Linked DNA regions of Homo sapiens: region 2 is linked to region 1. The links come from fine-mapping of genetic effects on gene expression. Tissue or cell type: whole blood. Region 1 holds a variant in brackets; the other region holds the start of a gene. All regions are shown on one strand. Distances are from middle to middle.

Region 1 (2,760 bases):
CCGCTCTTATCTCCTCCTACATGTTGAGTATCCCTGTTCTGAAAATCCAAAATGCTCCAATGAGCATTTCCTTTGAGTGTCAAGTCAGCACTCAAAAAGTTTCAGATTTTTAGAGCATTTCAGATTTTGGATATTCAGATTAGGGATACTCAACCTGTATTAAAACCCATACTGCTTTATCACAGGATTTTCTGATGCTATTTCTCCTACCTAAAGCCCATCTCTACCATTTGCAACCCTAGCCATCAAGATGCACTTTTTTTTTCTGAGAACACTTTGGTGGATTTTAAGACACACACACACACTTCTAGATGTAATTCTTCACCCTCTACTCCCATGGAAGTGATCGTTTCTTCTCTTAAACACCGTATCACTCACTATCTGTCATGGCAATCAATCATTACAGTGTATTCCATGTACTTTTTGCCTTATCTTAGAGCAGAGGTGTACCATTCCTTAGAGCATTTGGATTTCCCCTGTAGCGGTTAGCATAGTGCCTTGCCCGTGGTGAACATTCTGATCCACCAATAGTTTTTCTATTGGAATCTTTCAGAGCTTTCAGGAAGCTAGAACAGTCGCTTCTGCTGTTACTAAAGTTTCCCCCGCAATCTGGCTTTCAGTCTCATCCTTGAGTTCACTTACATTGAAGAGCAGAGAAGGCACTGGTGTGAACCGCTCAACATGGATCATGCAGATGGCATCAGGGAGATGGCCTTCTCTTGAGCCCACAAAGAAAAGCCTATGTTAGGTAAGATAGGAGAAGCTGAGAAAATTGGTGGACACGGTGCAGCCTGGTTCACCTGCCACATGGCCCTCCCTCTCTGCCATCCCTTCCTTCAAAAGTATTTGGATAATATGGACTGGAGCTCAGTATTAAGATTAATGACAACTGCAGGCTTCTGCTAGAAACAAGAAGAAAGAGGTTGTGGTATCGGTTGGAGAACACAAGTAATCAAAGGCTGGGTCCTGTAAGTTCTGTCCACTGCATAGCCCTTTGATGATACACCCCTCACAAAAGTTGCCACTCTTACCTAGAAGCAGCCACAATGGAGGCATTGAGGCCACCAAAACAGGATAATGCAACTGACAGTGGAATTATCCAGTTAAATATTCCAAATATCTGATCTGCAAAAGTCTAAGGGAAAAGAATGGAAGAGTCATTAGCAGGATCTAAAAGGGATGAAAGACATGGATGGGCATGCCCCCAGATTCCCCTTATTAGGTATTCCAACCTTTCTTCCACAGTGGGGTTAACAGGACCTTCTTGCAAGCCCGGTATTCTAAATGAAC[T/C]CCTTTCAAGGCTGTCTACCCCCTTTCCAGGACTTTCAAGAGCCAGAATATACCCAGTACCCCACAAGACACCCTCAACCTTCTGCTAGTGAAAATCCTTTACCACAGCAACAGCATCACTGGCCAAGATGTCTCTCATGTCTAGCACAGTATAATAGGCCACATTGGTCAAGATATAGATGATGGTGACAATGGGCATGGAGATGCCAATGGAGAGGGGCAGGTTCCTACAGCCAAATAGAATAAAATGCACATTAGTCCCACAGTCATATCCCTATCTCTCCTTTAATCCTTAGACTCTCCCTGCCACACCGGTCTTTCCAGGGATGGAGACTGTTGCTACATTTCCTCAATGCATTTGTCTTTGACGGTGCCCTGGATAGTGGCTGAAGCTCTGAACACTTAAGAACTAAAGAACATTAGGGGAAAGGAATATCATATTAGGAGACAGGACTGTGCAGCTGGGAGCAGTGGCTCATGCCTGTAGTACTAACACTTTGGGAGGCTGAGGCAGGGAGATGGCTCGAGTCTAGGAGTTGGAGACCAGCCTGGGCAACATGGCAAAACCCTGTCTCTACAAAAAACTAGCCAAGCAGCTGGGCGTGGTGGCTCACGCCTGTAATCCCAGCACTTTGGGAGGCCGAGCCGGGTGGATCACCTGAGGTCAGGAGTTCAAGACCAGCCTGGCCAACATGGCAAAACCCTGTTCCTACTAAAAATATAAATAATTAGCCAGGCATGGTGGCATGCACCTGTAGTCCCAGCTACTCAGGAGGCTGAGGTACGAGAATCACTTGAACTCGAGAGGCGGAGGTTGTGGTAAGCCAAAATTGTGCCACTGCACTCCAGCATGGGCGACAGAGCGAGACTCTGTCTCCAAAAACAAACCAAAAAAAAAAAAATTAGCCAAGCGTGGTGGTGCATGCCTGTAATCCCAGCTATTTGGGAGGCTGAGGTGGGAGGATCACTTGAGCCTGGGGAGGTCAAGGCTGCAGTGAACCATGACTGGGCCACTGCACTCCAGCCTGGGCAAGGCAGCCAGACCCTGTCTAAAAAAAAAAAAAAAAAAAAAAAAGCAGGGCGGGGGGGATTAACAAAGACTGTCCCCAGCATCATAACGCACAGGAAAATGGGAGGTTGTTTTGTTTTATACCCCAAAGATCTTTTGGTGTCAGGATTCCATCTCTAAGATTATCAACATTGGCAATTTTGCCTCAAGGTTGAGAAATATAAAAAGAAATTATGGAGGCAAATTGTGAAATTTAACATCTTCAGAGAATAAGATAGGCCTTCAGTAGGAAGAGAAGTGTATGTATCTGACTAGCAGCCTGGAAGATATGTCTGCCCACCCCTTCCTCAGTTTGAGAACCTCAGGAGCCATCCTAACTGGTGGGCAAAAGAAAGATGCAAAGAGCTCTCAAGGTCCCTGTAGCCCAATAAAGCCATGATCTTTATAAGCATCCTTAACAG
Region 2 (2,629 bases), 39 kb after region 1:
TGGGATTACAGGCGTGAGCCACCTTGCCCAGCCTCCAACTTGAATTTTTAAGAGAAGGCACTCATTCGCCAGAGAGAAAGGATCTGTCTCTCATCATTAGGACATTGCTGCCCACCCGACTCACCAAATAGAGAACTAAATCTTGGGCCGGGCGCTGTGGCTCACATCTGTAAACCCAGCACTTTGGGAGGCCAAGGCGGGCAGATCACCTAAAGTCGGGAGTTCGAGACCAGCCTGACCAACATTTAGAAACCCAGTCTCTACTAAAAATACAAAAATTAGCCATGCGTGGTGGCACATGCCTGTAATCCCAGCTGCTTGGGAGGCTGAGGCAGGAGAATCACTTGAGCCCGGGAGGCAGAGGTTGCGGTAAGCTAAGACTGGGCCATTGCACTCCAGCCTGGGCAACAAGAGCAAAACTCTGTCTCAAAAAAAAAACAAAATCAAAAACAAAACACTAAATGTTGGTTCTCTCTGAGCCTGCTATAATACAAGACAGGCATGGGGGCAGTGTGGCGGCTCCCAGAAAATAACTATAATGGCTTGACCCCGAGTTTTCAGCCTTATCCAAAACCCGTCTTCCCTCCAATTTCAGCTTCAGGGATCACCTGTGCTGAGGTACAACATTAGGAACTGACCCTACCAGCAGCTAATCTGTGGGAGCGTCTCATGACACTGCTCTTTTCCCCAAGGACTCTACGTCTGCCAAAACTAAAGGCTTCAGAAACCTGCTGGAAACCCACAACCATCCTCCTGCCCAAAGAGCATCCCTTAACCCTTAGCTGGAGTCTTCAGCCCTGGCAAAGCCCAAGTAGACCCACTTCACCCTGAAAGAAGACAGGCTATTATCTTTTCCTTGCTTTTCCTTTCCCATTCTCTGGTATTCTAAGCCTCCTGCTATCGATCCCTCACATCAGCATCGTTGAATCACCCAAAAAAGTATGAATGAGAGAAGGGCGATCCAATGTACCATAAAACCTAGGGATGATTGGAGGCAGCTGATGGCCACTCCCTACCCCAGAGTTGCTGCTGGAGAGATATCACCCCGAGCCAAGGCAGGGAGACAGCTGCAGCCAGGCAGCACATGCTGGAAAACACCGAACAGGAGACAGCTGAGAGGAAAATGGGAGAGGCTAGTCAAGCAATGGAGAGATGTTAGGGTGAGAGGCACTCGGGAGAAGAAGCGATTAGACACTGCACAGCAGCAAAGAGGAGGGTTAGCAAGGTAAGTGGAGATGAGAAGAGGGTGGAACGCACACTCACTCCTTGGTCCTGGATATAAGCAGGTTCTCACGGCAGTGTGAGCAGCAGTCAGGGAGAGAAGTGCCTTCCAGGATCTGTGGTCTGATGCTCCTCCTTCCCAGCCAGCAGTAAAAGGGAAGGCCAGACAAATGCCTATGGATTTAAGCAAGAAGGGTGGAGGAGGTGAGGCAGCCCGCAAAGGAAGGAGTGAGGGAGGGGGAAAGGAGTATTAAGCAACCATCTGGGTCCAAGGTTCACTGGCCCTTCACATCTGCAAAAGGGGCAGCTAGGAGCTCTTGGCTCAGCACTTTCTGTGATAAGAAGGTGCTCTCTCAGGAATCTCCTTTGTCAGCTCTGCTCTGGGACCAGGGGCCCAGAAGAAAGGACAGTCAGCTGAGTGCAGTATCTGTAGCCCTGGGGAAGCTGTCCCAGAGCAAGTTAGCTGAGGACAGGACAGTAGCGGGGAAGGAATACACAGCACTCTCTCTCTCTGTGTCCTCCATGCCCCACCCTAGCCTCTCTTCTCTCTCACCCCAAGCATTTAAGAAAGGGAGGAAGGTTGCACAGTGTGACACAAAGGCTTGTTCCCATGCTGAGATTACAGGAAGTGTAAGAGCAGTCTCTACACCATGTGACTGGGTGTTCTAAGAGAACTCTGCACACTTCCCCATGCAAAGAGAGACTGGGGGGTTGCCTCCAAGCCTGGGCCACTGCCCCAAAGTCTGAGCCTCAGACTACTTCAAAAGAAACACAGTCAAGAGATCAAATATCTGACTGCATCCCCACCAGACCCACGTGCCTTTTCATTCTTGACAAAACATACCAAGATCTCTGGGATAAGCATAAATTCCTATAAACGCCTTCCTCAAATATAAGTTGACTCCACTTTCCTAAAAAATATGAGGAAATCAGGCCAGACGCGGTGGCTCACGCCTGTAATCCCAGCACTTTGGGAGGCTGAGGCAGGCGGATCACAAGGTCAGGAGATCAAGACCATCCTGGCTAACACGGTGAAACCCCGTCTCTACTAAAAACACAAAAAAATAAAAATTAGCCGGGCGTGGTGGCGGGCACCTGTAGTCCCAGCTATTCGGGAGGCTGAGGCAGGAGAATGAGGAGAATGGCATGAACCCGGGAGGCGGAGCTTGCAGTGAACCCACATTAGGCCACTGCACTCCAGCCTGGGCAACACAGCAAGACTCCATCTCAAAAAAAAAAAATTAAAAAAGAATATGAGGAAATCAGATTTCACTGAATTCTGTTGGACAGACAGGCCCAGAACAGGCAGAGGAAGCTGAGCACTTTTTGGAAATCACATAGTTTATGCTATCTTTATTATTTACTTTAAATCTGGTATTCTGAGTCTCTTTTACCAACAGAAATAGAC

Evidence for each region. PIP is the estimated chance that this variant, and not a neighbour inherited with it, causes the effect.
Region 2: SLC7A7 starts here. The variant in region 1 is fine-mapped to the expression of SLC7A7 in whole blood (TOPMed, PIP above 0.99). The same link has a PIP of 0.9 or more in tibial nerve.

Annotation. Positions count from the first base shown.
Region 1 is chr14:22,774,802-22,777,561 of GRCh38, forward strand. SLC7A7 (solute carrier family 7 member 7) reads right to left here. Exons shown (of 10, transcript NM_003982.4): 5 at 1,394-1,517; 6 at 1,032-1,135; 7 at 643-739. Among named protein-coding and RNA genes, the nearest start is that of OXA1L, 9.5 kb to the left of the region's middle. The variant T/C (reference allele first, on the strand shown) is at 1,291.
Region 2 is chr14:22,814,057-22,816,685 of GRCh38, forward strand. SLC7A7 (solute carrier family 7 member 7) reads right to left here and starts at 1,379. Exons shown (of 10, transcript NM_003982.4): 1 at 1,264-1,379. RefSeq lists enhancers at 674-1,180, 1,369-1,468.